Homo sapiens: one gene and its partners. Each later gene encodes a partner of the first gene's protein in a complex. Each region holds a gene or a part of one and is shown in the gene's direction. Other genes may lie near its edges.

Region 1 (10,669 bases):
ACAATGGGACACCGACTGGGTGGGGTGGCTGGTGGTGTTTTAGGGGGCTTTTTTGTTTTTTGAGACAGAGTTTTGCTCTTGTTTGCCCAGGCTGGGGTGCAGTGGTGCCATCTTGGCTCACTGCAACCTCTGCCTCCCGGGTTCAAGTGATTCTCCTGCCTCAGCCTCCTGAATAACTGGATTACAGGCACACGCTGCCACGCTTGGTTAATTTTTGTATTTTTAGTACAGACGGGGTTTCACTAAAACCCCAGTTTGTTGGCCAGGCTGGTCTCGAACTCCCGACCTCAGGTGATCCGCCTGCCTCAGCCTCCCAAAGTGCTGGGATTGCAGGCCTGAGCCACCGCGCCTGGCCAAGGGGCTGGTTTTGGAGCAGAGTCAGAGGTCTGGGACGTGGAATAGGTAAGGGCAGGGCAGTGCGGGGGAGCAGGATAGAACTGCCCATTGGGGCTGAGCGCGGTGGCTCATGCCTGTAATCCCAGCACTTTGGGAGGCTGAGGTGGGTGGATCACCTGAGGTCACGAGTTCGAGACCACACTGACCAACATGGAGAAACCTCGTCTCTACTAAAAATACAAAATTAGCCAGGCATGGTGGCACATGCCTGTAATCCCAGCTACTCGGGAGGTTGAGGCAGGAGAATCACTTGAACCTGGGAGGTGGAGGTTGCGGTGAGCCGAGATCGCACCACTGCTCTCCAACCTGGGCAACAAGAGCAAAACTCTGTCTCAAAAAAAAAAAAAAAAAAAAAAAAGAACTGCCTACGGGCCCCTGGGCTGAGATGTTCTCAGATGAGCTTTCTAGCTGGAACTGCCTGGCCACCTTCAGAGACATTATAGCAGTCCCCAATCTTTTTGGCACCAGGGACCAGTTTTGGGGAAAACAATTTTTCCATGGACTGGGGAGGGGGATGGGAGGGGGTGGGAGGGGGATGGTTTCAGGATGATTCAAGCACATTACATTCATTGTGCACTTTATTTCTGTTATAATAATAATAGAATATATAGTATATATAATTGTTTCGGTATATATTACAATGTATATTACAATGTAATATATACCGAAACAATTATACAATTCACCATCATGTAGGATCAGTGGGAGCCCTGAGCTTGTTTTCCTGCAACTGGACAGTCCCATCTGGGGGTGATGGGAGACAGTGACAGATCATCAGGCATTAGATTCTCATAAGGAGCTTGCAACCTACATCCTTCGAACACACAGTTCACAATAGGGTTCATGCTCCTATGAGAATCTAACGCCGCTGCTGATCTGACAGGAGGTGGAGCTCAGGCGGTAATGCAAGTGATGGGGAGCAGCTGTAAATACAGATGAAGCTTTGCTTGCCCATTGCTCAGCTCCTGCTGTGTGGCCCAGTTCCTAACAGGCCATGGCCTGGCGGCTGAGGGCCCTGGTATTACAGCATCAGGAGCTAGAGTAGGACCGAGCCCGATTCCCACCTTCCAGGTGCCCCTGAGCCAGCCTCCAGAGGATGAGCTGGATAGGCTGACGAAGAAGCTGGTTCACGACATGAACCACCCGCCCAGCGGGGAGTACTTTGGTGAGCTGAGGCTGTGGGGTGGGTGGGACGTGGGAAGGGAGGCTGGGAGACAGAGGGGACAGTGGCTTCCTGGGTCTGTGAAGACTGATGCTGTTTCTCCCTGTCCTCAGGCCAGTGTGGTGGCTGCGGAGAAGATGTGGTTGGGGATGGGGCTGGGGTTGTGGCCCTTGATCGCGTCTTTCACGTGGGCTGCTTTGTATGTTCTACATGCCGGGCCCAGCTTCGCGGCCAGCATTTCTACGCCGTGGAGAGGAGGGCATATTGCGAGGGCTGCTACGTGGTGAGTGGCTGGGGCTGGGAGGAGGGAGTCAGTGGCTGGATGCAGGGGGCTTCCATCCAAGGTGGTAACTAGAGCGTCCAAGACCAAAGGAGGAACGGTGCTAAAAGCCAGGCGACTGAAAGTGATGTACAAACAGGGCGGAATTCTGCAAGTATCAAGCAAGTAGCTTAACACTGGTGGCTGAAGGGAAGGACGCAGCTCTTACAAGTGTGGAGCATCTTACAGTTAAAGAGAATGTGTTAGATTCCCATGACACCCCTGTGAGGCAGGTATTACTACTGATTCCTGGTTTTGTTTTTTGTTTTTTTTTGAGACAGTCTCGCTCTGTTGCGCAGACTGGAGTGCAGTGGGGTGATCTCTGCTCACTGCAACCTCAGCCTGCCCTGGTTCAAGCGATTCTCATGCCTCAGGCTCCCGAGCAGTTGGGATTACAGGTGCCCACCACCACACCCAGCTAATTTTTGTATTTTTAGTAGAGACAGGGTTTCGCCATGTTGGCCAGGCTGTTTTGAAACTCCTGGCCTCAAGCAGTCCGCCCACTCTGGCCTCCCAAAGTGCTGGCATTACAGGCGTGAGCCACTGCACCCAGCCTGATTCCTGTTTTTCTCATAGTGTTTAAATACCGTGTATAGTGCTGGGACCTGAACTCAGATCTGCTCAAGTCTGCCTTTCACCGAATCACATGCAGGAGGCTGCATGCAGGAGGCTGCAGAAATTAGATGGCTGGGTTGCTGGGGTTCCTGTTGAGCTGCCATGGCTCCCGCCCGCTCCCAGATCTTCCTGCCTTCCTTCCCAACAGGCCACCCTGGAGAAATGTGCCACGTGCTCCCAGCCCATCCTGGACCGGATCCTGCGGGCTATGGGGAAGGCCTACCACCCTGGCTGCTTCACCTGCGTGGTGTGTCACCGCGGCCTCGACGGCATCCCCTTCACAGTGGATGCTACGAGCCAGATCCACTGCATTGAGGACTTTCACAGGTCAGGCCTGGCCTCCACCTTGTCTCACAATGTCTGACCTTTCCTGTCTCTCTCATCTCTTCATGCCCCAGGACTGTCTCTTCCTGTTTCCAACCCTGGCCCTCCTTCGTTCTTTGTTATTGTTATTTTTTAGAGACGGAGTTTCACTCTGTTGCCCAGGCAGGAGTGCAATGGCATGATCATAGCTCACTGCAGCCTCCAACTCCTGGGCTCAAGTGATCCTCCTACCTCAGCCTCCTGAGTAGCTGGGACTACGGGTGCACACGCCACCATGCCTGGCTAGTTTTCTTCGTTTTTTTTTTTTTTTTTTTGAGATGGAGTCTCACTCTGTCACCCAGGCTGGAGTGCAGTGGCACGATCTCAGCTCACTGCAACCTCCACCACCTGGGTTCAAGTGATTTGCCTGCCTCAACCTCCCCAGTAGCTGGGATTACGGGCGCATGCCACCACGCCTGGCTAGTTTTTTTTTTTTTTTTTTTTTTTGTATTTTTAGTAGAGACAGGCTTTCATCATGTTGGCCAGGCTGGTCTCAAACTCCTGAGCTCAAGCGATCCACCTGCCTCGGCCGCCCAAAGTGCAGGGATAGCAGGCGTAAGCCACTGCACCCAGTCTTCTTCTTTGTATTTTAATAAAGACAGCGTCTTGCTGTGTTGCCTAGGCTGGTCTTGAACGCCTGGCCTCAAGTGATCCTCCTGCCTTGGCCTCCCAAAGTCGGGGGATTGCAGGCTAGAGCCACTGCACCTAGCCTCTCTCATTCTCTTTGACATCGTCCCTTCCCCAAGACCTAAGGCCATACCTCTGGCCTCTCTGATTCCCTCCTGTGCCCCACCTTCTCTGGGTTCCATTGTTGGTGCCCTGCAACCCCAAGGCTTGATGGCCTTCTTGGTTCTCTTCCCCTGCAGGAAGTTTGCCCCAAGATGCTCAGTGTGCGGTGGGGCCATAATGCCTGAGCCAGGTCAGGAGGAGACTGTGAGAATTGTTGCTCTGGATCGAAGTTTTCACATTGGCTGTTACAAGTGCGAGGTCAGGGGCCCCCAGCACGTGCAAGGGGCTGGCAGTGTCTAGGGTGCTGGGTAGAGCATGAGGGGGAACACAGAGGTCTGGGGTTGATGGAAACCTGTTGCTTCTTTCTTTTTTTTTTTTTTTTGAGACGGAGTCTTGCTCTGTTGCCCAGGCTGGAGTGCAGTGGCACAATCTTGGCTCACTGCAACCTCCACCTCCCGGGTTCAAGTGATTCTCCTGCCTCAGCCTCCTGAGTAGCTGGGATTACAGGTGCTGGCCACCATGCCTGGCTAATTTTTGTATTTTTAGTAGAGACAGGGTTTCACCATATTGGCCAGGCTGGTCTTGAACTCCTGACCTTGTGATCCTCCTGCCTCGGCTTCTCAAAGTGCTGGGATTACAGGCGTGAGCCATCGCGCCCGGCCAATTGTTGCTTCTTTTTCAACAGGAGTGTGGGCTGCTGCTCTCCTCTGAGGGCGAGTGTCAGGGCTGCTACCCGCTGGATGGGCACATCTTGTGCAAGGCCTGCAGCGCCTGGCGCATCCAGGAGCTCTCAGCCACCGTCACCACTGACTGCTGAGTCTTCCTAGAAGTACCTGCTGGGTTCTCAGTTCCAGTTCCCATCCTTTGATTGATCACTCTCCCTGACATCCACCTGTATGACTTTGTCACCAAATGCTGTCTTCTCTTTCTCCAATCAAGAAATAATAATCCCTCGAGTTTACAAAACACTTCCAAGTCTGTTGTCTCATCTGATTCTCCCAGTAGCCCATTACAGGCCCAGTCATTGTTACTGCCTGCATTTTTTTTCTTTTTTTTTTGAGACGGAGTCTGGCTCTGTCACCCAGGCTGGAATGCAGTGGTGCCATCTCGGCTCACTGCAACCTCTGCCTCCCAGGTTCAAGTGATTCTCTTGCCTCAGCCTCTTGAGTAGCTGGGATTACAGGCGCCCGCCACCACGTCTGGCTAATTTTGTATTTTTAGTAGAGACGGGGTTTCACCACCTTGGTCAGGGTGGTCTTGAACTCCTGACCTCAAGTGATCTGCCCGCTTCACCCAACCAAAGTGCTGGGATTACAGGCGTGAGCCACCGCCCTTGGCCACTGTCTGCATTTTTACATGTGAGGATGTCAGAGCTGAGAGGTGACTCCCCCAGATTGCATGGTTCTTAAATGGTGGAACCTGGGTCTTTTTGACTCAGGTCCAGTTTTTTTTGACAACTCTTGTAATCCGTCACTACCCTCCTCTCAGTGCTGGGAGCAAGCACGCCTCAGGGAGGAGGCAAGATTTCCTCTATGTATCTATTTTGAGACAGGGCCTCACTCTGTTCCCCAGGCTAGAGTGCAGTGGTGCAATCAAGGCTCACTGCAGCCCTGAACTCCTGGGCTCAAACAGTCCTCCTGGCTTAGCCTCCCCAGTAGCTAGGACCACAGGGGCATCCCACCAAGCCCAGTTATTATTTTTTTGTGTGTAGATGGGATCTTGCTATGTTGCCCAGGCTAGTCCTGAACTCTTGGGCTTAAGTCCTCCCTCCTCGACCTTCCCAAGTGCTGGGATCACAGGTGTGAGCCAATGTGCCTGGCCCTAAATATTCTGTAAAGGGGCCTTGCTATGTTGCCCAGGCAGGTCTCCAACTCCTGGGCTCAAGTGATTCTCCCACGTCGGCCTCCCAAAGCGCTGGGATTGCAGGCGTGAGCCATCTCAGCTGGTCTTCCTATTAAGTCTCACACTCAATTCACTGAGAGGGGCCTTGGTGTTACTCCCGGGGGTGGTAATCCATTGAATCTGGGCGGTCCATACTCTGTTTAGGGCGTTAACTTACAGCCTATTTCATCCAAATACTGAGCGGGGTTAAGACTGAGATCTGCCAATTTTACTTAAAGACGGGGCGTCTTTGTCGAGGAAAAGCAGGAACGGCGGACTTTGCATTTAGTGCGCACTGTGGCACCCAATTTTGGCTGGATATTTGGAGCAGAAAATGGTGGGATACGATGCTTTAAAATGGTTGCTTCCACCTTCCATCCCCTAAGCGCCCGCGCTTCCCAAGCCCACGCCCTGCCCGAGGAGGGGACGAAATCACCCCCGGTGAGGTCAGGAGGCCCGTGGGGGGAACATGGCTGGATGAGAACCGTCTTAGGACCCCGACACATCTGGGGTCGCGCGATCCTCGACTTCCGCTCTCCCTTCGCGCCCAGAGGGCTTGTTCGCCTCCCGAGGCCGCGCTTGGCCCAGCCGAGGTCCCGTAGTTCCTAACGCTCGAGCCGTTATCGTCTCGAAAAGCCGCGCGAGACTTGCGAGATCCCCGCCCCTTTCCCATCACGCCCTGCTCTCCCCGCCCTTCGCGCTCGGTTTGTTAGTTCCAGTTCCGGCCGCGAGGGTGGAGCTTTGTGCCTCGGAGGCGTGGGTGACGCAGGCGCAGCGCGGGCTGCGCGCGCTACTGCCCATCCCCGGTTGTCCCACTTTTGTTCGCCTCTCTTCGGCCCTCTACTCAAGAGCTCCGTCTCCGTCTCGCCCTCCTCGAAGTCCTCGTCGCGCGCCCGCGACCCAGGTCGCCCTGAAATCTAGCCCGTCCGAGCGCGAGTCCAACGGCCGCGGCCGCACCAAGGTGGGGGAGGGGAGGAGCCTGGGGGGCCCCGCTGGGGCGGGAGAGGAACCGGGGTCCACGGGGGCGGGCGCGGAGAAACTCGGGGCGAGTGGAGGTGTTGGAGCCGCGTTCTCAGGCCTAGGATGGTGGGGGCCGCGGAGGGCTGGCCTTGGCGGGAGGGAAGCGGGCGAGCTGCCCGCGAGGGACGGTCCCTTCCTCCGCTCGTCCTTTTGCACCACTCCTACCGCCTCTCCCCGGTCCCCAGGCCCCCTCAGACCGTGCCATGGGTGACAGTGATGACGAGTACGATCGAAGGCGCAGGGACAAGTTCAGAAGAGAGCGCAGCGACTACGACCGTTCCCGCGAGAGAGATGAAAGACGTCGAGGGGACGATTGGAATGACAGGTGAGCCGTTTTTAACTTCATCTTGTCCCCGTTTCATGCCGTTTCACTCCACCCGCGTCGCTTTTCTTTCTCCCCCTTGTAATTTTTATGAGGGCGAATCCTATGAAATGGCTCATTGGACCGTTTTCTGTGGTTCAGCCTATTTGCTGTTGGCCAAATAACTAGCTGTGGCTTGGTTTTTGAAATTCTCTGCAGATCAGAGCTATAGAGCTAAGAGTTTGAGTATGAAGAAGCACTGTTTATACATGCACGAAAAGCGTGCTTTTTTGCTTTTTTTTGTTTTGTTATTGAGATGGGGTCTTGTTCTGCTGCCCTGGCTGGAGTGCATTGATGCAGTCGTAGCAGCCTCCACCTCCCGGGCTCAACCGAGCCTCCCGCCTCAGCCTCTTGAGAAGCTGGGACTCCAGGGGGAGGCCATCACGCCCGCCTAACTTTTAAAAATTATTATTGTTATTTCGAGACAGAGTCTTGCCCTGTCGCCCAGGCTGGAGTGCAATGGCGCAATCTTGGCTCACTGCAACCTTCGCCTCTGGGGTTCAAGTAATTCTCCTGCCTCAGCCTCCCGAGTAGCTGGGATTACAGGCACCTGCCACCACGCCCGTCTAATTTTTGTATTTTTAGTAGAGACGGGGTTTCACCATGTTGGCTAGGCTGGTTTGGAACTCTCGACTTTAGGTAATCCACCCAGCTCGACCTCCCAAAGTGCTGGGATTACAGGCATGAGCCAGTGCTTGGTCTAAAATTATTTTTTGTAGAGACAGCGTCTTGCTCTGTTGCCCAGGTTGTAAATTATATTTTAGGAGGATTGCTTCAGAAAAATAATAATATAGAGTTGATCTGACTGGAGAGGTCGTCAGATTATTTCCCTGACAATATATGATTAGGTTTCTTGTCACTGTTTTGCCTAAAATCTCAGAGTTCATAGGGCGGTGCTGATTGGATTGATTATAAGATGTGGTTATTGACCTTAGGGTGTTACAGTGAGCTTGGCATGGGGGATCAGAATGGCAGTGGATGTATTCTGTAAATGAGTATATATAGTGGAAGTTATAAAGAGGGTAAGCATTGAGGGAACAGATCTCTAAAGGAGGGGAGCGGTGCTGGAGGTTGTGTGTCAGGGACCCACTGGAAAGTGACACTTGGCTAGACTTGGAAAGATGAGTGGGAATTCCCCAGACACGAGTGACATGAACAGCTTGGAGTTGTGGACATAACGTGTGATTTTAGCATATTCTAGTTTGGTTAGAGTCCTGTTTCTCAGGATGTCCACAGACCATAGGGGGTCTCCGAGGCTAAAATTAGTTTTTGTGGTAATGTTTACATATTATTGCCATTTCCACTGTTGGTGCCATAGCAATGATGGGTAAAACCGCTGATGCTTTACCAAACATCAAGGCAGTGACAGCAAAGAGTTAAAAAAAAAAAGCCAGCCGGGCCCAGTGGCTCACACCTGAAATCCCAGCACTTTGGGAGGCCGAGACGGGCAGATCACGAGATCGAGAGATTGAGACCATCCTGGCCAACATTGTGAAACCCTGTCTCTACTAAAAATACAAAAGTTAGCCAGGCATGGTGGTGCGCGCCTGTAGTCCCAGCTACTTGGGAGGCTGAGACAGGAGAATTGCTTGAACCCAGGAGGCACAGGTTGTAGTGAGCTGAGATCACACCCCTGCACTCCGGCCTGGCGACAGAGCAAGACTCTGTCTCAAAAAAAAAAAAAAAAAAAAAAGCCACTTCCATCAATGATTCTTGATGAAAGAGTAAAACATTTAAATTTGATTAGATTGGACTCTTGACTGTACGTCTTTTTTAAAAAAATTTTTTTTTGACACAGAATCTTGCTCTGTCACCCAGGCTGGAGTGCAGTGGGGCGATCTCAGCTCACTGCAACCTCCACCTCCTGGGTTCAAGTGATTCTCCTGCCTCAGCCTCCCGAGTTGCTGGGATTACAGGTGCGTGCCACTCTGCCTGGCTAATTTTTGTATTTTTAGTAGAGATGGGGTTTCACCATGTTGGCCAGCTGGTCTTGAACTCCTGACCTCACATATCCACCTGCTTCGACCTCTCAAAGTGCTGGGATTACAGGCCCGCGTTAGTTGTCTTGAGCAAGAGTACGCATGTGATTGAGTGAGCTGAACTAACAGCTTTTTTCCATGGGATGTTATTTTTACTTGAATGAATGACAAACAGTGATTGTTCATACTTGGGTATTTGGCAGACATCTTGAAAATGAACTGAGAACCTGTTACTTCAGTGTAAGCTGTTGGTATTTGTTGCCAGTGATGAAGTAGAACTTTCCAGTGAAAATTAAAATTTTGGGCCGGCGCAGTGGCTCATGCCTGTAATCCCAACACTTTGGGAGGCGAAGGTGGGTGGATTGCTTGAGCCCAGGAATTTGAGACCAACCTGGGCAACGTGGTGAAACCTGTCTGTACAAAAAAATACAAAAATTAGCTGGGGGTGGTGGCACATGCCTGTAGTCCCGGCAACTCCGGAGGCTGAGGCGGGAGGATGGCTTGAGCCTGGGAGGTGGAGGTGGGAGTGAGTCTTGATGGCACCACTGCATTCCAACCTGGGCAACAGAGAGATACCCTGTCAAAAAAAAAAAAAGGAAATTAAAATTTTGGAAAACTTCTACTAATGTGAGCTTGACAGCTTCCCATTAAGTAAAGACTTTCTTGGTGAGATAGGCAGTGATGCTGATGAGTACATTTTGATATTGGGTGAGACATAATCCAGGTCCATTGAAAGGGAAAGATAGAACAGTGGATTTTAATGCAGCAGAGAAAGAAATATTCACTGATACTATTTCAGATTGAAGGTTCTAACTAGCCTGTGAGAAACTACTTCCTTCTTGGACAAGGTAGCATAAAGAAAAGAAAAAAAAGAACCTACCTCTTGTTGAATTTTGGGTAGTATCCAAAATGAATATCTACAGTTAATCTGAAAAGGCCTTTCCAACTCCTTATCAGTATGAGGCCTGATTTTCTGTTTTTTTTTTGAGACGGGTCTTACTCTGTTGCCCAGGTTGGAGTGCAGTGGCACGATCATGGCCACAGATCACTGCAGCCTTGACTTCCCCAGGCTTAGGTGATCCTCTCACCTCAGCCTCCTGATTAGCTGGGACTACAGGTGTATGCCATCACACCCAGCTAACCTACTTTCTTCCTTCCTTCCTTTTCTTTTCTTTTCCTTTCTTTTCTTTTCTTTTCCTTCCTTTCTTTCTTTTTCTTTCTTTTCTTTCTTTCTTTCATTCTTTCTTTCAGATGGAGTCTCACTCTGCCCAGGCTGGAGTATAGTGGCGTGATCTGGGCTCACTGTAACCTCCATCTTCCGGGTTCAAAACGATTCTCCCACCTCAGCCTCCCGAGTAGTTGGGATTACAGGTGCCTGCCACCACGCCCGGCTAATTTTTGTGTATTTAGCAGAGACAGGGTTTTGCCATGTTGGCTAGGCTGGTCTCAAACTTCTGACCTCAAGTGATCTGCCTGCCTTGGCCTCCCAAAGTGCTAGGATTACAGGCATGAGCTACCACTTCCAGCCAGCCAGCTAAGTTTTGTATTTTTAGTAGAAAGGTGGTTTCACCATGTTGCCCCAGCCTGGTCTTGAACTCCTGGGCTCAAGCAATCCACTGCTTCGGCCTCCCAAAGTGCTAGCATTCATTACAGATGTGAGCCACCATGCCCGGCCTGCCTCATTTTTCAAGCAGAACAAAATATCTCAACAGATTCAGTGTAGAAGCTATCCTCTACAAAGCCAGAACTTGGAGAGATTGGTGACAATGTAAAAACAATGCCACTTTTTCTCACCAAAATTTTTCTGGAAAACGATTTTTCATAAAAACATGTAATGTGTTTCA
Region 2 (10,648 bases), on another chromosome or scaffold:
TAGCAGATGCTGTCAATGTAAGAAAAAAACCCATAACAGACATTTTAAATTGAGTAAATTTTATCTACTAACGTTTGTCTCTCCTTGAGTGTTGTGGCAGTTGAGGTGGAGGCAGAATCGCATGCATTTAGTTTTAATAGTGAAACACCAGATTTCTACGAAGGAATGGCTTGAGAGGATATTCTAGTCCAGCTTTCTATCTGACACCTAAGGGTCTAGAGACTGAGCATAACTAAGATGGAGGGACAGCTGTCAGTTCCCAAACACCAGCAAGAGCGAATCCAGTCCGGGGCTCTCTTCACTACACAGGTATAAATTAAATAACTATGCTGCGTGCTTTGATTTCTAACACGAGGTTTCTTGTGTAACCTCTGTACAAGGCACAGAAAATACAATTCCCTCCCTTTTTTTTTTTTTTCTGAGACGGAGTGTCATTCTTTGTCAGGCTGGAGTGCAGTGGCGCGATCTCGGCTTACTGCAACCTCCGCCTCTCAGGCTCAAGTGATCCTCCCACCTCAGCCTCCTAAGTAACTGGGACCACAGGCGCGGGCCACCACGCCCGGCTAATTTTTTTTTTGTTTTTGTATTTTTTGTAGAGACGGGGTTTCGCCACGTTGCCCAGGCTGATCTTGAACTCCTGAGCTCAGGTGATCCACCCGCCTCGGCCTTCCAAAGTGCCGGGATTACAGATGTGAGCTACTGCGCCCGCCGATAATACAATTTTCATATGCTTTGTAATTGACTAGTCAAAAACTAATATACTTCTCAAGTCATTACTTGGGGGCTGGAGAACTTGAGTCTTTTGTTCTTTTCTTTGTTGTTCTAATGCTTCCTTTTTCTCACTTAGAGGTAATCCCTAAAGAGAGAGGAAATGTCATTGTAGGGCATCCTAGAGAATTGGAATGCTAATATGTAGAAAAATAACTTTTGCTTTGGTTATTGGGAGACTTACATAACTTTCTTGGAGTTGGCTTGTTTTTAACACCAGCTGGCAGCCAAATCACTGTCCATTTGGGTCTTGCCGCGAGAACCTCAGAGTAAATAAGACAAGTAAAACAAAGCATTCATTAAGCAAAGGTTTTTATGGTTGATATTTTAGTGTGGGAGAGGCAGATACAATTCATGTTTGATAATACAGCAAATCTGAAATTTTTGTCAGTTGCCACAATTTGGATAACGATCGCTGGAGTTTACCCTACACAGTGATCTGAATCAGATTATTTTGGATGCTTTCCTTTTAGTTAAAAATCTATTTTTTAAAAAATAAATCTTAGAAGCTTAAGGATTATAGAAGGCTATTTTAAAATAGGGTAGGAATTATTACAGTCAGAATTAAATAGATGCATCTGAGCATTTCTGGACAATTGTCAGCTGCTGTCAGTCACTGCCCTGACTTTCCGTATGCTTGACTCTCTATATATAGAGTGTGTGTATATATATAAACTATAATAGAATGTATTATATATATTTATATATTATATAAATTTATATTTATATATTATAAATTTATATTTATATATTATATAAGTTTGTTTATTATAAGTTTTATATAAATATATACTCTAATATATATTTTACATATAATTATATACTGTATATATAGAAGCAAGCATATGGAAAGTAATACATATATATATATATATATATATATATATATATATATAAAATCATTTATTCAACAAATACTTAACAGTGCCAAGCTCTGTCCTAATTACTTGCCATACAGCAGTGGACAATATAAAGATAGAGCCTCCCCTCTAGAGTAGAGAGAAGACAGTCAAGTAAAGTATAGTGTATCATATAGTGACAGGCGCTATGGAGTGATACCAGGTAAAGAGGGGAGAGATTTCTGTGAGGGAGAAGTTACTATTTTATGTAAGTTGATTAGAGAAGGCTTCGGTGTGAATGGCATTTGAACAAAGACTTGCCGGAGGTAAGGTAGCAGCCATATAGCTGTATGGGGAAAAGCTGTGATCCAAAGGTAACCATGGGCACAAAAGCCTGAAGACTATAGGGTTCCTGTCATGTTAACAGAAGAGCAAGGAGGCCAGTGGTGCTGGAGCAGAGTGAGTGAGGGGGAAGTTGTAGGAGATAAGATTAGAGAGATAGCAGAGGGTTGCATCTTATAGGGAGATTATAAAATTATACTTCTGTGTTGAGACTCGACTATCAAAGATTAAGGGGGGTAGGATTAGGAGGCTATACCAATGAAGTTCATGTAGTAGTCCATTTATAAACAAGGAAAAGGAAATGCTAAATGGAAAGTAATGTGTATGGATACTAGTCCAGTGCTAAATCTTAACTAATTGCTTAGACTTGCTTTAAAAATGTCTCTGAAGCTTTTTAGTTACTATGGGATATGCAGTCCATTGTTTGTTCTTTTAAGAAAGTATTTAGATTGTTCAAAATCTTAGCTAGAAACAATACGAATACAATTTTGGGAATTTGGGCAATTTACAAAAATTTCAGATTTGCTGTATTAGCCCCATTTAAGCTTCTTAGAATTAGGTCCTTGTCTTTTGGACTGTGGCTGATTTTTTTACTTAACTAAAGAAAAAAATAGAAGTGAAAGGATTTGTTATTTTGAGAGAGTATAGTTTATTTCAGAAGTGATGGTTGCCTGTTTTAAGTCTGCGGGCTCAAGGCATGTTATCTTTCAAGTTGTTCAATATCAAAATAGATGAGCCAAAAAGAAGGGAACAGTGTGCTTAAGGTTTAAAAACGTAATGTTGAAGTTGTTGGTTTTAGTTACTTTACTTTTCTATTTTACAGGGTTGGTTTTTGTTTTCCATTTTGTGGGTCTAAAATTTCTTGTAAGGCTATAAGATGTACAGTGTACCCGTATAAAATTAGGATTGACTTATAGAGGGGAAATTTATTTGGTTTATTAAGATCCTTTCAGATGGATTTTATACCTGCTTCTCTATACTAGCCAAGTCTGTCTGAGTGAAGTGGTAATGTTATCTTTAATTTACATTTTAAAACTTTTACATAGTTAAATTTTAATAAAAAATCTGTTCTTGCCTTGGGAACTACCATAGATACGTTTTCTTCAGGGTACATTGAGCGAATTCCCCAAATTGTATTCGTATTGTTTTATTTCATTTCCCTGTTCCCTTACCCAGGTTGTCTTATGAGTTCAATATCATGTTTCTGTTCGTAAGTTCAGATTTTGTCTGTAGTCTTCACCCCTTTATAGTCTCTCAACTATCAGGTGAAAGTGGAACATTTCTTACCTCTTAATACTTTCTGCCTCCTCCCATTCTCCAGACAAATATTGTCCTTTAATATAGCCAAAATGAACAAAGGGTTTGCAGTTCAGAGATGTGACTATGTACATGTATTTTCTAGTTGTTTCTCAGAAATCATACCTTCTCTTCCCACAGCACTATTTTCCCCTTTTCAAGCTTATAAGAGGGCCTAGGAGGGTTGCTTTAAAGGCTGTGGTATGATTCCAAACTGGAACAAGCCAGCTGGAAAGTTAAGTTAGGAAGACTGTAGAGGTGGAATAAAGGGTTGGCAAAATAGATGAGCCAGAAAGAAGGGAACAGTGTGCTTAAGGTTTAAAAAACAGCAACAAAAAATAACTGCTCTCATTCAGCTAGTTTTTCAGCATCTGCATTCTCCCAACCTCACTGAAATTTGGTTCTGAGGAGCTCTGCTTTCTAGAATACGGTTTCTTAACATCAGCACTATTGACATTCTTGGCCAGTTATTTGTTTTGGGAGATGCCCTATGCAACGTGAGATATTTAGCAGCATGCCTGGCCCCTACCCACTAGATGCCAGTTGCTTCCCCTAGTTTTGACTACTAAAAATGTCTCCAAGGTTTGCCAGATGACCACTGGGGGCAAAATCTACACCCTGTTGAGAACTACTGCTGTAGAAGAAGGCTATTTGAATGTCCTAGCTGGCAGCTTGCGTAAATATTACATCAATTATGCTTTTTTTCAATAAGTGAATCCTGGAAATGAAAGACCTTTGTGTGAAATTTGGCACTTTGGGTGGTGGAACCTTGATAGGTCCTGTGACTTAGGTTTGATCTATACTTAAGAATCAAGGTCCCTGAACCTCTGTGCCACACATGTCTACAACTTTACACAGGCAGATATCTCCAGGAATAAATACATCTCAGCTCTCATGCTGCATGCGTATTATACTTTTTGTGGCATTATCCTTTCAAAATTATAGTCAGTGGACATTCAGTCAGGTTATCATGGTAATTAATGGGTTGGGAAGTTGACGTACAGAGTGTCTTACCCTGTAACCTTTATAATACCCCCCCTCAGATCCTATGTGGATAGTAATAGATTCGTTTTATTCAGCTTCAGTTCATGTGGTATCTGAAGATCATTTCAGTCATTCAATAGATTTAACATTCCAAGCTTAGAATAGCCAGGTGCTGTGTTTTATGAGAATCACCATACATCATTTTCAAGCCAAGTGTTCCATAGGCAAGTAAGTGATTATGAACTTTGTAACAATAATTCCTTTGGCTGTTCAGATCTGAAGATTGAAGTTATATGTAACTTGCTACTGTGTAACCATATATCCAACTGCAGATTTTCATTATTAATACCGATTCCCTGCACAGTTACAGGCTCTTGCTTTCTTGTCCATATGCCGACCAAATAATTGAATCAATGGAAGTCGAAAATTGGATTGTATTAGACTAGCCAAAGTGTTTAGCAGCAGCATCAGGTTCCATACTTAACACTATTATTTTAATTTTTTAAGCTTTATGTTATACCACAAAAGGACTTAGGTGAGTGTGTTAAGGCTTTAAACAAAGTGGTAAGAGATACAAACAGCAAGGGTCTTAATAGACAGGTGTTTGAGGTTAATTTTTAGCACACCTTCATTCAACTTGAATTGTTGAGCAATCAAAAAGACAGATGCTTGGTAATGATTTTAGAATGGTAGATTTAAAAAACATAGAGATTATTCGAATGATATGGTTTTTAAATAAAGCAGTTATCAGTAATTCAGTTAATAAAAGCTAGTTAAAGCAGGAATTGTAAAACGTGGTCCTTTTTTCCACCAATTTTTTGATATAGTGCTCAGGACTTTTCTTTGAATATACGTATACTGACTGTCGTTCCCATTATTTAGGATAAACTATACCGTTGTGCTGCATCATATGCAGAACTGAAATTGTTAATTGAAGACTTGAGATTAGAGCTTAGAAACATGTGAAGCAAGTGAGAAATCCTAATGTTTTATGCTCCTTTTTCCCATCTTTTGAAGCTTTCCTCTTTATAGCTGATATGACAGCTTTTTTTTCTGATCAAGTCTTTCCAAAGCATTCGACTTGGTTTTGCACCCTTATTTTGTCATTTACATAATACATTATTAGACTAATGAATACTACTGGTACTAACAGGTTTCGGAACAAGCAACTGAGGATCAGTAAACAACTCAAGTTAAAAGAATGGGAGTAGCGGTACATGAGTATTCTAACTACTAGTGTTTAACATGTTGTTGGCAGCTTTCCAGCTTGTCCACAGAAATGGACAGGGCTGCTGATTGCATAGCTCCATGGGCACTACTCACACAAAATTTAACATAAATAATGCCTCCTGGAGTTATTGTATATAGTGGCTCTGGGAATGGGAGGCTGTTGGTTAATCTAGCTTAGTCTGAGAAATGGAGGGTCTGTGAAGAGCTTCTACTCTGTAAAAACATAGGGCCTGGTAGAAAAGAGATTATAACCTAAAAAGGTTAAATAAAATTTGTGATAGCAGATTTATCATGTAATGTTAATTTTTTATGTTGCTGAAATAGGTGGGCAGCCTCACAAAAGGAGAAAGACCTCTGATGCAAATGAAACTGAAGATCATTTGGAATCTTTAATATGTAAAGTAGGAGAAAAGGTATGTCACACAATAGGCACAGGCTGTGATGGGTTTAAGAATGTGGTTAACTGTGCTTTGATTAATTTTTGCAGCTGAAAAGTTGGACTACATTTTGGCAAAGCTGGTATTACCATGCATCTGTATCCCAAATTGAATCCATGTTGAAGCCCCTGGGATGTAGATAATTGATCATTTTTAGTACTTTAGTAATTAATAATTTTCATAGAAGATGAGCCCTTAGAAGGGACCTAGGGTATAGACCCCTTAATTTATGCATGAACTAAATCAGCCCTGAATACTTGAGGTAATTTGCCCAGAGTAAGAGAGTGAATTAGTAAAAGAGGTAAAATGGAGCCCATGGTGTCCTCCCATTTCTAATACTTATTCTGTTATCATAGACTGCTTAGTTTTTAAATTTCACTCGTCCACTTTTCATGGATTTCTGAAGAACAATAACTATCTGAATTGATTTATACTAAACCCATTATAGCTCTGTATGCATGTAAGACTATTTTAATGATCATGCAGAAGTTTTTATTTTAGTTCACTAAAATAGCAATTGAAAGGACAGATGATTGGTAATGATTTTAAAATGATAGATTTTAAAATATGTATATATTTACATTTAAATAGATTTTTAAAAATAAATTTATGTTGCTGAGTACTTGACAGATATTTAATGTGATGTCCTCTACAGAGTGCCTGCTCTTTGGAGAGCAACCTAGAAGGCTTGGCTGGTGTTTTGGAAGCTGATCTTCCTAACTACAAGAGCAAGATCTTAAGGCTTCTTTGTACAGTGTATGTATGCAAAAGATTTATGAATCCAGGTGATAATGTATTATCTACTCTTAAATGCTTTGGGAAATGTTCAAAATACATGTTTATGTTCTATATGTCCTTGGCTTTACTTCTATGGGGAAATTTGTACAAATGAGCCAACCTTTGGCGCTTTGGCGAACTCTTTTTCTTAGGGATAAAACTAAAATTGAACATTTTCCTTGTATGTTCTTACAACCTTAGAATCATTTTAGTTGACTTTTTATAGAGATAGTAGATACTGTCTCATTCAGATATATATTTTTAAGCATGTACATTTAAATGTATGATACTTACATTTTTAAATTAGTACCAGACAAATTTGGGAATTGGTAACTCAGGTAATAGCCCTTCTTGGAAGACTGAAGATGCTTTGGAAGCCACTGTTAATAGGCATACTCTCTGGATAAATGGGAGTCTTTGTAGTTACATGAAATTGTAATGTATCCATGAGGTGTTTTTAAATTATGAAGGTGATGTTTATCACTTCTCAGCCTTTTAGTTTAGATCAAGTGAAGGTAACTTTAAGAAACTACTAAGGAAATCTTCTGAAATCCTTTATTAAAATGGAGTAGTATTTACACTTAAACTGTTGGAAGCCTTGTTTGTTTAAGGCTGAACTTGTATTGCTTCGCAGTGTTCTTTTTTAATTTTTGGTTTTGGGAGGGTTTCAGGGACCACAGTTACCATCAACACAGGTATTTTTTTTGAAGACCTTGATTGTCCCTGATGTTCTGCTAGGTACTTTAGGAAAACAAGTCAAAGAGAATCTCTTGCCCACTTAATGATTATGAATTCTTATTGCTTTTTGAGCTAATTCTAAAGGCTGCCTAAATTAGGAAAAATTGCTTTTTCTAAAGGTTTATTGTAATCCTTTCCCATACTTTTAAAATAACTTTAATGAAATCAGCACACTTGGAGTAAGCAACTGAGACGTAAACAAATCTTAACTATATCAGAGTATGTTTTTAAAAAATTCAATAATTAAACTGGTAGGAACTTAGATGAAACTCGTTTTAATTGTGCATCTTTTCTAAACAACTAGAATAGTGTTTCTCAAAGTAGAATTCTAGTTCCATGACATTTGGTTAGCTAAGTTTAGAAATTCTGAATGCTGCACGCCCCCCCTTAATGATTCTGTATTAAAGAGGCTTGTTTCACCCAGGATTTCTGAGCTATTTTACCATGGAAACCATGTTCTGTGGAAATGCTATTCAGTTCCACTAAGCACACTTGAAGAAAAACTGTTGTAGCATTAGTTTTATTTATTTCAGTATGATAACTTTACAATTAAATCATTTACTTTCTTAACTCTTAGATTAACTGATGAATTAAAATGAAAAATTACGGGACTATGTCTGTAACATTTCTCAATGACATGCTTTTTCTGAAGTATTTTTAAAGACATAGCTAAAAGTAATCCTGTTCCAAAGTTAATGGAATGATAAAAAGATTCACATAAAATTCAGCAACTTAACGCCATTGTTTTGGGGTTTTCTTGTTATACTGGGTTCTTAAATCAGTGCACGCCTATTACCTGAGAAGCTGACAATTTATACAACATTAGTTGGACTACTGAATGCCAGGAATTACAATTTTGGTGGAGAATTTGTAGAAGCCATGATTCGTCAACTTAAAGAATCATTGAAAGCAAACAATTATAATGAAGCCGTGTATTTGGTAAGTTAGTTTGTTTGTTGGTATGTTATGACTACTGTTGGGATGGAGGGAAAAGGTGAACTACAACCAAATAATTTAAAATGCTCTCCTAAAACATTCTCATTCACTTTCATAGCTTCATAAGCCACCTTTATTTTGACGATACCCCCAAATCTGTAACTGTATCTCCAACCTTTCTCCTGAGCTCCAGTCCAGTATTCCAGATGCTAGCTGCATAGCCTTCAGATACCTTACTAGGAAGTGCCTAAATTAATGCATCATTCATACCTCCTTTTTTCTGCCCTCTCCCCAGCTCATACAGTGGCCACTGTGTACTGAATAACCCATCTAGAAAGCTGAGCATTAATTTTTGTCTTCCCTTTGCCCTCTCGTACCATAGGTGTTCCCAATCCCTGTCAATTCTGTCTCCCTAATTTCTCTCAAGTCTGTCCTTTCTTAGTCTCCAGGGCCTCTAGCATAGTTTATGCCTTCCTCCAGATGTTCTTAATAGCCTCTTAACTGATCTTTTTGCATCTAGATTCTCTGCTTTTCACTTTGTGTTCTACAGTGGCACCAGACTGGTCTTTCTATAACTAGGCTCTGCACATGTTGGTTACTGGTTAAAAAAACCTTAGTTCCTTCCCATTGTCTACAGTGAGTGGTCTTAAAAGCCTGGTGCACAAGATGATTCCTTGGGTTTCAGGAAGTGAATATTAAGAACTCTTATTTATCTTAAGTGGAAATGAAATTAAACCTTACTAATAATACATAGATTAATGGTGATCCAGTGTATATCATAAATACATATGTATGTGTTGAAGATATGTGATCAAATTCTTTTTTACTGAGTACACAATCAAAAAAGTTTGGACACCCATCAGGCTATAGGATTAAAGTCCAGACTCTTTAGCCTGACCCTTTATGGTTTCCCCAGTCTGTTTCTCTATTCTTGTCTCCCATATGCTCCCCAGCAATATCAAAATAACTTGCAGATCCCTAAACACACCTTGTTTTTGAACCTCTATGCCTAGACTGCCCTCCTTGCTCACTACTTGAGGCTGTTGCTATCCTTTATGACCTAGCCTAATTGTTACCTCCTTTGTGATGCTTTCCCCAACTCCCTTTGTCATTGTTCCTAAAAAATGCTTAATTTGCCTTTTAGTGTGGGAGTCATTCCTTTGTATTGAGATTGTGCTTGTTCCACTAGAATGGGTCCCCTAACAGTGACTTTTAGTAGTGTTTAGCAATAGCACACTAAGCACACCCAATAAATATGTGTTCTGTAATTTCCATTTCTGTAATTCAGTGAAAATTACAGCCAAACAGAAAAGGAGATTATAGGTTGAAGTAGCTAGAATATTTTACAATCTGGATTCTTGATGTAGTATAGCATAGAAACGTATGAACTCACAGATTACTGTCCTTTATATAGTCTTTGTTACAACTTCTCAATTCTGCCATTGTAGCACAAAAGCAACCATAGACAATATGTAACTGAATGAGCGTGGCTATTCCACTAAGTTTACTTATGGGCACTGAAACTTGAATTTCATGTAATTTGTATATGTCATAAAATACTCTTGATTTTTTTTTCACGCATTTAAAAATGTAAAAACCATTTTTAGTTCCCAGCTATGCAAAAAACAGGTAGTAGGCTAGATTCAGCCCTTAGGCTATAGTTTTTTAGACCAATAGTTTAGCCTATACAAGATTGCTTATTTTGTAGTTATTATAAAGAACATTTAGGTTTAATAGCAGAAATTGTTTGCCCCAACAGGTCCGTTTTTTATCTGATCTTGTGAATTGTCATGTGATTGCCGCCCCATCAATGGTTGCTATGTTTGAAAATTTTGTAAGCGTAACTCAGGAAGAAGATGTACCTCAGGTAAGAGAACCCCTCATGCTGAATCTTGAGGGGTTCTTGAGGGGTTACTGAATCCTGGTACTTCCATATAGTACCAGGAATTTTTCGCTGATAACCCATTAGCAATAAAGAAAAAAATAACAGCAGACTATCACACTTTAAGTTCTTACTATCTAAAAATTAAGCTGACTGGCACACTGGTGGGTTCTCATAATATCTGTATGTTGATTTAAATGATGCTGTCTAGTAAGATTAGAACTAATATATCTAGAAATGCTCTGTATAAACCAGATGTCTTATTTAAGTCCTATTAAATAGCTTCCATAGGATTTCATTCAAGAATAAATAAAATATGAATGAATATAATTAAAGCATATTTTAAACTTAACTTTTTAAAAATCCTTTAGGTGCGACGAGATTGGTATGTGTATGCATTTCTGTCATCTTTGCCCTGG
Region 3 (10,449 bases), on another chromosome or scaffold:
ACAGGACCCCGTCCTCCTTCATGACTCCCACTGCTGCCTCTCCTGGGCATGGCTGTTAGCTGTTCTGCCTTCTGGGTGAGCTGGCACTCTTCTCCCTGAGACCAAAGATTTGACCTGTCGGTCTTGATGTCAAGGTCCCCAAAGACCAGGTTAAGTGACGACACCTGTCTGTTCCTGCCCTGTTGCTTCCAGCCACTGTGATGTTTGAAATATGTGATAGTACCTGGTTGTGAAAAAAGACAATGAACTGCTAGTGACATTCCTCAATGACCTCTCCCAAACCTCCCATGATGCCTTACCCTTGCTGTCATGACAACCCTCTGGCTTCCTAAGACCCATCTGCCTATCGAAATATGTGCAAGTCAGTGAGACGAAGTATAGAGAACAGGTGGCCCAGATCCAGGGGACCCAACTTCTGGCCCCTTGGTCTGTCACCTCCTCGCTGTGTGATCTTGAGAAAGCTCCTTCCACTCACCCACCCCACTTCCCAGTCTGTTGGGATCAGAGGAACTTTGAGGTGTCTGCCGGCTAACATTGTGTCATTCCTGGAGTCCACAGTACACGTCCCCTGCCTCAACAGGCACAGCTCTCACAAAGCTCTTCAAGCATGGAAGTGGGAGTTGTGTTGTACTTCATGGCACTCTGATGCCTGCTGTCTCAGTGTTTGGTTATTATGCAAACAAGTAATGTTTGAAATATATAATAGCACTGGAGATTTTCTCCCTACTTTCTTTTACTCCTGTTCCTGAGAGGTGGTGGGAAACTCTCCAGCCATTTCTGCACCTTGTCCTTAAGAGTCATTCTCCTGGCTGGGCATGGTGGCTCACACCTGTAATCTCAGTACTGAGAGGCCAAGGTAGGCAGATCTCGAGGTCAGGAGTTCAAAACCAGCCTGGCCAACATGGTGAAACCCCATCTCTACTAAAAATATAAAAATTAGCCAGGCGTGGTGGCACGCACCTGTAATCCCAGCTACTCAGGAGGCTGAGGCAGGAGAATTGCTTGAACCCAGGAGGCAGAGGTTGCAGTGAACCGAGAGCCACTGCATTCCAGCCTGGGAGACAGAGCAAGACTCCGTCTTGGGGGAAAAAAAAAAAAAGGGGGTCATTTTCCCAGATTAGGGAGCCAGGTGTTCTTCCTCCTTAGAACTGTGGGTCTCAAGCCCTCCCATCCTGCCCCAGAGGGCAGAGAACACACAACACTCAGCTAGTGTCTGGTTACCAGCCTCAATTTTTCCGATGGCTTCAAGCTTTCTAGATTGCATGATTAACTGTGCTGCCTAACTAGAAATGATCAGAGCTGGGTGTGGTGGCTCACACCAGTAATCCCAGCACTTTGGGAGGCGGAAGCAGGAGAACTGCTTGAGGCCAGGAGTTCAAGACCAGCCTGGGCAACAAAGTGCAATGCCATTTCAACCAAAAACAAAACAAAACAAAATTGTGGCTGGGCGCGGTGGCTCACACCTGTAACCCCAGCACTTTGGGAGGCCGAGGTGGGCAGATCACAAGGTCAGGAGATCGAGACCATCCTGGCCAACGTGGTGAAACTCCGTTTCTACTAAAATACAAAAAATTAGCCAGGCATGGTGGCACGCACCTGTAGTCCCAGCTGCTCAGGAGGATGAGGCAGGGGAATCACTTGAACCCGGGAGGTGGAGGTTGCAGTGAGCCGAGATCGCACCACTGCACTCCAGCCTGGTGACAGAGTAAGGCTCCGTCTCAAAAAAACAAAAAAAACAGAAAAAAAGTTTTTAATTAGCTGGGCATAGTGTCATGGGCCCGTAATCCCAGCTACTTGGGAGTCCCAGGGAGGAAGATCGCTTGGCCCAACGGGTCGAGGTTGCAGTGACAGCTAGTATTGTGCCACTGCACTCCAGCCTGGGCAAGAGTTAGGTCCTGTCTCAAAAAAAAAATCAGAAATTTAGCTAGGAGCTTCAAATGACAGGACATTTCTATATACAATGGATTTCCTAATCGCAGGTCTGCTAACTGGCTGGATCGTAGTCTGTCTGTATCCCTGACCCTCTAAAATGAGGGGTAGTGAAGGGGTGGGTTGCCCCTCCACACCTGTGGGTGTTTCTCGTTAGGTGGAAGGAGAGACTTGGAAAAGAAAGAGACACAAAGTATAGAGAAAGAAAAAAGGGAGCCCAGGGGGCCGGCATTCAGCAGACGAGGATCCCGCCGGCCTCTGAGTTCCCTTAGTATTTATTCATCATTCTTGGGTGTTTCTCGGAGAGGGGGATGTGTCAGGGTCATAAGATAATAGTGGAGAGAAGGTCAGCAGATAAACACGTGAACAAAGGTCTCTGTGTCATAGACAAGGTAAAGAACTAAGTGCTGTGCTTTAGATATGCATACACATAAACATCTCAATGCCTTACAGAGCAGTATTGCTGCCCCCATGTCCCACCTCCAGCCCTAAGGCGGTTTTCCCCTAACTCAGTAGATGGAACATACAATCGGGTTTTACACCATTGCCCAGGGACGGGCAGGAGACAGATGCCTTCCTCTTGTTTCAACGGCAAAGAGGCGTTCCTTCTTCTTTCACTAATCCTTCTCAGCACAGACCCTTTACGGGTGTCACGCTGTGAGGGACGGTCAGGTCTTTCCCTTCCCACGAGGCCATATTTCAGACTATCACATGGGGAGAAACCTTGGACAATACCTGGCTTTCCTAGGCAGAGGTCCCTGTGGGCTTCCGCAGTGTTTGTGTCCCTCGGTACTTGAGATTAGGGAGTGGTGATGACTCTTAACGAGCATGCTGCCTTCAAGCATCTGTTTAACAAAGCACATCTTGCACCGCCCTTAATCCATTTAACCCTGAGTGGACACAGCACATGTTTCAGAGAGCAGGGGGTTGGGGGTGGGGTTACAGATTAACAGCATCTCAAGGCAGAAGAATTTTTCTCAGTACAGAACAAAATGGAGTCTCCTATGTCTACTTCTTTCTACACAGACACAGTAACAATCTGATCTCTCTTTTCCCCACAGGATAGGAGTCCAGGTAACTTGTTCCATGGCAGGCAGTAGTCTTTTTTTTTTTTTTTTTTTTTTTTGAGAAAGGTTCTCGCTATGCTACCCAGGCTGGTCTCATCTCAGGCTCATGCGATCCTCCTGCCTCTGCAGTGGCTGGGATAAGACACAACTGCCACCAGGCCCTGCCCCTAGGCAGTAGTCTTAATGCCTGATGGTGGGGGGTTGGGGAAGGAAGGGGTTGAGTATCAGGGTAAATGCTGCAGAGCTGTGTTAAGGACTTAGGCCCTGGAGTCAAATGCCTCTGCTCACATCCCACTCTGCAAGACTTTGGGCAACTTAAGCAGCAGCCTCTGTTTCCATCGCAGTGGCTCTTGCCTATAATCCCAGCACTTTGGGAGGCTGAGGCGGGAGGATCACTTGCGCCCAAGAGTTCGAGACCACCCCATCTCTACAAAAAAATCCAAAAAGTAATCTGCTTCCTCATGTGAATGTCGTTGTAAGGAGTGAGATAACACATAGAGTGCAATGAGCAAGTCCCAGCACAGAAGACTCATTTCATAAAATACGTGTTTATTATTACCATAGGCCTACAGTCCCCGGTATTCTTAACACATCTTGCCTGAGAAGTATCACACTCATGCCTATCAACCAGCTCACACATTTAATCAAAGGAATTTGGCAGCTGTAGGGTTGTCTTTTCATCCATATCGTCCCTGGAATTAACTGTCCTGCTATACCAGTCAGATTGAGCAGCATCTGTCAAGAGTTTCAGTCCCACTTGCAGAGGAAAGGCTCTCTGGCTTCGGTCCGTGGCTCTCCGTAGGTGCCGTGTCTGGACCCAGCCTACCTTCATCTCTGTTAGGCTTAGGGCTGTCTCCACACTGTGTCTTGTCCAATCACAAGACTTCAACGGAGCGGGCGGTCTGGCCTAGGCTCTTATGCGTGGGATGTCTGCAGGCCAACAATCCCAGTCGGGATTCGAAGCCGCGCGCAGTGCCCGGAATGACCCCTCCACATTGATGCCACTGTAGAGCCCGGAAGGAAAAGCAAGCGGCCTCGGCCCCGCACAGCCCAGGATTAAATGTTTGCGCCAGGGCCCCTCTGGCTACCTGGTGGTGGCCCCGAGCGGCCTCGGAGGCCGCGGCGTAGCTCCTGGGTGAAGGCGTCTCTAAATCGCTCAGCGCGGCGGCACAGGGAGCCCACGGGCCCAGCCGCGAGGTCCTGCAGGCGGCGGGCCGCGTCCTGGCCCCGCAGCTGGGCCTGCAGCAGTGCGAAGGCCGTGAGCTGCGCCGCACGTCGGATAGGCCGCGACTCTGACAGACGTTCCACCAGCTGCGGGCTGTGCAGCAGGGCGGCCAGCAGCCGCCGCAGCACCATCTTCTCCAAGCGCCCGGAACCCGACCTCGCCGCCCTCGTCTTCCGCCCCGCGGCGCCCGACCCGGACGTCTATGCCCCCGCGCAGCTTGATGACGACACGCCGCCCTCGGATTGGGTCCAATGAGATGCTCGCCTCCGCGCGTTTCCGCTTCCGCCATCGCGGACGCAGCCTCGTGCCGGGAGTCGCCGCATTGTGGTCCGCTTCTCTGCACTATGTCGGGTGGCCTCCTGAAGGCGCTGCGCAGCGACTCCTACGTGGAGCTGAGCCAGTACCGGGACCAGCACTTCCGGGTGAGGGAGGCCGGGCCGCGAGACGGGAAGGCCCTGGGCAAGAACGCTGAGAAACGGTTTGCTCTTGTCTCATTGTGTCGCCTCCCATTCAGCTGAAATCCGCAAACGCCAAGTGGGGCCCCGGTGCCTGCTGGCGAGGCAGGGAATGGGTGCTGGAAGGGCGCTTGGATATCACTGAAGCCACTTGCTCTGGAAGACGGGGAACTGGAGGCTCGCTTATCCCATTCGCTCGCAGCCGCTCCCTGTACCCCAGCCAGTGCCGAGAGGTTTGAGCGGTGGTGGTGGTGGCGGCTCCCGTTTCCACGGTTGTGCCTCCGCAGACGACTACGTAGCAAGGGGGAGGGGTGCCCTTCTCTCTCCCAGAGTAGGCAGAGGCGCCTTCCTGATGCAGATGCGGGGCTTTTTGCTTTGTTTTTTAAATCGGCGAAGCAGTGCCCTTCGGCGATTCGGGCCCCTTCTCTGGGAGGATGGTGTTACGGAAGCTGTACGCGGTGCGTGGGAGACACAAGTGGAGTCCTCACTCCGCCCTCGGGGAAGCTTCGGAGTGGGGAGGTGGACCCGCCAAGCTCGGCACTTTGAGGGTGTTCGGATGTAAAGATCGGAGAATTGCTGGATTTCAGAAGAGGGAAATTTTTAGTCCGGACTATATCACAGTATATTTTGTGGAAAAAGGGGAGGCAGCAGATATTCAAAGTAGACTTTTCAGTATCAGCGGAGGTAGGGATGGAATACGGTTGGGGGTTGGCGGGGCGGGACTCATTAACCCAATTATTTAGTAAACGTTTATCGAGTGCTGTCGCCAAATCCTTGTGCTAAACCCTAGAGGGAGAGGGAAGACAGTTTCTGCGCTCTGCGAGCTCATAATCCCCTGTAGTGAGGATTCAGAAAAGGGAAAAATCCCCTTGTGACTGGGAAAGGAAGGGGCGCATATAGCAGAGGGTAAGTGTGGAGAATGTGTGAAATGTGTTACTAGAGTAGGGAAAGGGAAATTTTGTTTGACGCTAAATTAGGGAAGCTCTTAGATTTATTTAGTCAAGGCTGGGAACGGTGGCTCACGCCTGTAATCCCAGCACTTTGGGAGGCTGAGGCGGGTGGATCACGAGGTTAGGAGTTCAAGACTAGCCTGGCCAAGATGGTGAAACCCCGTCTTACTAAAAATACAAAAATTAGGCGGGCGTGGTGGCAGGCGCTTGTAATCCCAGCTATTCGGGAGGCTGAGGCAGGAGAATCGCTTGAACCGGGGAGGTGGAGGTTGCTGTGAGATCGCGCCACTGCACTCCAGCCTGGGCAACAGAGCGATATTCCTTCTCAAAAAAAAAAAATTTATTCAGTTAATGTATTTTATTTTTTGAGACAGAGTCTCGCTTTATTGCCTAGGCTGAAGTGCAGTGGCGCAATCACGGCTCACGCAGCCTCAACCTCCTGAGCCTAAGTGATCCTACCCACCTCAGCCTCCTGAGAAGCTGGGACCACAGGCTCGCGCCACCACATCCAGCTAATTTTTTGTAGAGACAGGGTCTCCCTGTGTTGCTCAGGCCAGTCTCGAACTCTGGGACTCAAGCGATCCACCTGCCTGGGGCTTCCCAAAGTGCTGGGATGCCTAAGTGCCAGGCATGATTTGCACTTCTACCACTTTTAGTTACTACTTTAGACAGTTCCACATCCTGACCATTTTGAACTTAAAGCATCCTGTGAGATGAAAACTGGAACCTTCTGACTTTGTCTATTATTCATCTCCTCAGTCTAAACCTGTAGCTTTTTTTAGATGCTAATGCCATACTGTCATGTGGAATTTCTAGCATTCTGTGAATGGAATCCATATTAATATACTTTAAGCACTTACACCACAGTTATCTTAAACTGTAGGCTATTTATTTGGATCTTACTTACATGTGTGAGAAAAGTAGAAAAAGAAGATGCCTCCTTTCCATGTTCACAAATCAGTAACAGCAGTAAAATGAAAGGAATTTACTTTCTCTAATGTCTCACTCCAAAGTTCCGAAAACCTCTTTTTAACATACAATGACTATTGTCCTGTGGACTTTTTTTTTTTGAGATAGAGTTTCACTCTTGTTGTCCAGGCTCAAGTGCAGTGGTGCAATCTCAGCTCCCTGCAACCTCCACCTCCCAGGTTCAAGCGATTCTCCTGCTTCAGCCTCCCGAGTAGCTGGGATTACAGGCGCCCGCTGCTACCATGCCCAGCTAATTTTTGTATTTTTAGTAGAGACAGGGTTTCATTCACTATGTTAGCCAGGCTGGTCTCAAACTCTTGACCTCAGGCGATCCACTCGCCTCAGCCTCCCAAAGTGCTGGGATTACAGGCATGAGCCACCGCGCCTGACCCCGATGAGCCATTTTGGACCCAGGGCTTTGTCTGTCAGGTGTGTTGGATGAAGCCCAGTTATATGCTTAAGTCTCTGGCTTCATCCTGTCATCCCAATTTGGAAGCCCATTAAGAAAGTGAGCTCTGTTTTGTTTTTAGTGATCACTACATTTTCCCCTAAACTCAGAGAAAGATCTATGAGCACGTAAAGCATCAAGGTTGTGGCTTTCAACAGTCTCTAGGGGGTTATTAAAGAGGAACTCTCTCTCTCTCTGAAAACCCACTTATTTTTCACTACGAAGGATAAAAGGGCCCTTTGTCATATATTGGGTCAAGGTCCAGAGTCTACACTTGGGTTTAAAGGATGCACTGCTGAGGATATGGTGTGTGCAGGGAAAAGGGAAGCCGCTTGCGTGGCAGTCGGGCGTAGAAGTGACTTTGTTGTATGTGGTATAACTTTTGAGCCCTGTCTCTACTAAGAGTCTGGACTTCGCATAAGTGCTTCACAGAAGGTCGACATCCCCCTTTTTGGGCAAGGGATTTCTGGTAGGCTGGGATGAGAGAAGTTGATTTCCAAACCAGAATTAATGAATGTCTCTACCGTACTTAGAAATACTATTTAAGCAAGGCTCTGAAGTTGCTTAACTTTTGTCTCTATTTGAAATTCTAGGGTGACAATGAAGAACAAGAAAAATTACTGAAGAAAAGCTGTACGTTATATGTTGGAAATCTTTCTTTTTACACAACTGAAGAACAAATCTATGAACTCTTCAGCAAAAGTGGTGACATAAAGAAAATCATTATGGGTCTGGATAAAATGAAGAAAACAGCATGTGGATTCTGTTTTGTGGAGTATCCTTCCCATGGATCTAATGTAGCTGCTGAACCAGGGTAGAGCTGAGAGTGGTAGCTCATAAGCGTCCCTGCACTCGTCCCTACGTTTTCCTTCATCTCCCTCCTACTTTCCACCCAGTGTGTCTCTGCCCTTATACTGTAAAGCTGATACTATTTATATTCTCTTCTGAAATCCATGCTTTATGGTTCTTTAACAAAAAGTTTTTCAAGAATGTTTGCCCTTCACGTAAAAAAAAAAAAATTCCAAAGAATGTAGTGAAAATATAAAAATCTCGTACTGTTCTAAACCCCTAATGCCCTTTGCCAGAGGCAGTCAGTTACCAGTTTCTTGGGCGTCTTTCAAGAAGTAACCCTGTGGGTGTGCGGTAGTGTATTTCATGTGCTGTTTTTAAAATCATTTTTTTATTTTTTATTGTTCCATTTCAGCATATGTAGGTCTTTTTTTAAAATAGCTGTACAGCTGGGCATGGTGGCTGGTGTTTGTAGTGCCAGCTGCTCAGGAAGCTGAGGCAGGAGGATCAGTTGAGCCCAAGATTTCAAGGCTGCACTGAGTTGTGACTGTGTTCCAGCGGGGGTGACGGGTTAAGACCCCATCTTTAAAGAAAAAAACTTTTAAGTAAATAGCTGTATAGTATTTCATTATATAGATGTATATAACCTGACTGTATAGGTACAAACCAAAACTATTTACTTTGATCATTTAATTCCCTTACTCAGACTCTTTTAAGTATTGGACCTCTTGGATTTATCCTATGTTCTTTTTACTGTATGTTTTGGTCATTCAATTTAATATTCTGAGAAATTTTGCAGGCCCAATTTAATATATCTTTTGAATTTTTTCCTGTGCCCTGAATTATGTTTGTTTCGGTTGAAATTTTTCCTTAAGTGTCTGGTGATCCCTGGATTTCTGCTCATAATTAAGGAAAAGAATGCTGACTCACTGGACCCAGGCAGGGCTTCTCTCCCAGATTGCAGGCTTGCCTCGGGGATACACAGGTTTCCCAAATGCTAGAATGAAAAGAGATTTTATTTTGGCTTGCTAACATCAAAGATACTAGTTTCTCCAGATGGTTTATTCAGAACACTGTTGTCTTATTTTTATTTGTCTGAGATTAAATGTCTTCCCCTTTAATTAAAGGGAGGTCTCTGATGAAGTAGGTTTGGGAACTGCTACCTTGGTGACAGCTTGAGTCTTTCCTTTAGTGAAGTGCAGCACAATTCCACGTGCACGGTGACCTTCTCTTGATTAGGGTGCCTTGGAATGTACAGAACCTAACTTGAATATACAGCACTGGTTTCTTGGATAAGAAGTGTACAGTGATCTAAACTTGCAAACCAAAATACAGAGATGATGGGACCAAAAATTATCAACAGGAATGTCCAAGAAATATGATCAGTGTAGCCATGGATACGTGTCATATTTGACTCTATGTGCTTCCAAACCAATCGCAAACAGGCCTGGGCAAGCTGAATTACTGTCTTTGAACTCCATCTGGTTGGATTAGCTCTTGTACTTTTTAACAACTCAGCTTCATTTACATGTTGTTCCCCTATTTCCAGAAATGTTTGGAAAAATGCTAGTGTTCCTTAATACTTAAGATATTACTCACGCGCAGATGCGGAAAACGCCATGCGGTACATAAATGGGACGCGTCTGGATGACCGAATCATTCGCACAGACTGGGACGCAGGCTTTAAGGAGGGCAGGCAATACGGCCGTGGGCGATCTGGGGGCCAGGTATGCAAGAAGGGTCTCTGGGCTCAGCCATTGCCTGGGATTCCAGTCACAATGACAGGTGTTTTGGCAATTTGTATTTACTCTTTTGTAAATAACTTTGTGTCTATAACCTTGGCTTGAAGTGGATCTGAAAACCACCCAACGGTTTGGGTGAATTTTTTTTTTAAACCGTGAAATGGTATGTTCTGTACGTTTCTAACAAGCAACCATTCTTGAACTTCTGCTAGGGCTAGGTATCTTCCACCTGCAGGAACATCTAAAATGAAAGCAAAACGCACTGAAGTGAGCTGAAGTGCATATGTCCTGCTTGAAATGTTCACATTGTGGCATCTGAACAGGTTTCACTGTTTGTCTAACATGTTTGTGGGAGGCATATTTGTTACACCATTCTTTTCCATACTGTAACTCTGGATTCTTTCCATTAAAGGTTCGGGATGAGTATCGGCAGGACTACGATGCTGGGAGAGGAGGCTATGGAAAACTGGCACAGAACCAGTGAGTGGTGAGAGCTCTGTCAGTGACAAACACTCCTTTGGCCTGTTGAATTTGCTGAAGAACATCACCTAAAGTCTGCACACGAGCCCATTTTTACCAAGATTTGATCAGTGTCTTTACTGAGCTGGAAGCCTCTGAAAGTTATTAAAGGACAGAATCCAAAAGAATGCCTTTAATTCTTGTCTGAGAATCTTGGCCATGTGTCAGATTATCAGAACAATTTTGTTACCAGGTCAGAAATTGTGTTCTTTGACAACAGATTGGATCTGTAATGTTGATTAGTCTTTAGCCATAACCACTACACTTTTAGAAAGACAGAAAAATGTAAGAATTTGTTTTTACCATAATGAGTCTTAAGTAGGTTCATGATCTACATTGGGGCCTGGGATTATTTT

The links.
Region 2: the proteins of SRRT (region 1) and NCBP1 are in contact, whole or in part, in a cryo-EM structure (PDB 8PMP), measured with the Homo sapiens proteins. Residues at the interface, in NP_056992.4 of Homo sapiens: Asp857, Pro858, Arg859, Val862, Glu863, Tyr864, Arg865, Asp866, Leu867, Asp868, Ala869, Asp872, Asp874, Phe875, Phe876; in NP_002477.1 of Homo sapiens: Tyr461, Gln463, Lys511, Lys557, Ser558, Ser560, His561, Ser564, Ala567, Lys568, His570, Lys607, Ile609, Arg610, Thr611, Gln612, Met648, His651, Glu705.
Region 3: the proteins of SRRT (region 1) and NCBP2 are in contact, whole or in part, in a cryo-EM structure (PDB 8PMP), measured with the Homo sapiens proteins. Residues at the interface, in NP_056992.4 of Homo sapiens: Asp857, Arg859, Ala860, Ile861, Val862, Glu863, Tyr864, Arg865, Ala869, Asp874; in NP_031388.2 of Homo sapiens: Ser48, Phe49, Tyr50, Thr51, Thr52, Glu53, Gln55, Lys67, Met71, Leu73, Met76, Lys77, Lys78, Thr79, Ala80, Tyr89, Asp107, Glu121.

The regions. Positions count from the first base shown.
Region 1 is NC_000007.14:100,868,903-100,879,571, forward strand, and holds the start of SRRT (serrate RNA effector molecule homolog), read left to right. Parts: upstream 1-6,200; 5' UTR 6,201-6,426; intron 6,427-6,443; exon of another isoform or gene 6,444-6,548; coding exon of another isoform or gene 6,549-6,551; intron 6,552-6,661; exon of another isoform or gene 6,662-6,670; coding exon of another isoform or gene 6,671-6,688; coding exon 6,689-6,810; intron 6,811-10,669. Other genes in the region: TRIP6 (thyroid receptor-interacting protein 6), read left to right, coding at 1,468-1,561, 1,672-1,841, 2,641-2,819, 3,722-3,842, 4,270-4,401. UniProt on the Homo sapiens protein: Acts as a mediator between the cap-binding complex (CBC) and the primary microRNAs (miRNAs) processing machinery during cell proliferation.
Region 2 is NC_000009.12:97,635,011-97,645,658, forward strand, and holds part of NCBP1 (nuclear cap-binding protein subunit 1), read left to right. Parts: intron 1-5,783; coding exon 5,784-5,872; intron 5,873-6,551; coding exon 6,552-6,652; exon of another isoform or gene 6,653-6,658; coding exon of another isoform or gene 6,659-6,681; intron 6,682-8,193; coding exon 8,194-8,350; intron 8,351-10,106; coding exon 10,107-10,214; intron 10,215-10,600; coding exon 10,601-10,648. UniProt on the Homo sapiens protein: Component of the cap-binding complex (CBC), which binds cotranscriptionally to the 5'-cap of pre-mRNAs and is involved in various processes such as pre-mRNA splicing, translation regulation, nonsense-mediated mRNA decay, RNA-mediated gene silencing (RNAi) by microRNAs (miRNAs) and mRNA export.
Region 3 is NC_000003.12:196,936,620-196,947,068, reverse strand, and holds the start of NCBP2 (nuclear cap-binding protein subunit 2), read left to right. Parts: upstream 1-4,540; 5' UTR 4,541-4,565; coding exon 4,566-4,643; exon of another isoform or gene 4,644-5,110; coding exon of another isoform or gene 5,111-5,134; intron 5,135-5,926; exon of another isoform or gene 5,927-6,095; intron 6,096-6,941; exon of another isoform or gene 6,942-7,192; intron 7,193-7,636; coding exon 7,637-7,818; intron 7,819-9,420; coding exon 9,421-9,559; intron 9,560-9,986; coding exon 9,987-10,058; 3' UTR 10,059-10,449. Other genes in the region: protein NCBP2AS2, read right to left, coding at 4,053-4,352. UniProt on the Homo sapiens protein: Component of the cap-binding complex (CBC), which binds co-transcriptionally to the 5' cap of pre-mRNAs and is involved in various processes such as pre-mRNA splicing, translation regulation, nonsense-mediated mRNA decay, RNA-mediated gene silencing (RNAi) by microRNAs (miRNAs) and mRNA export.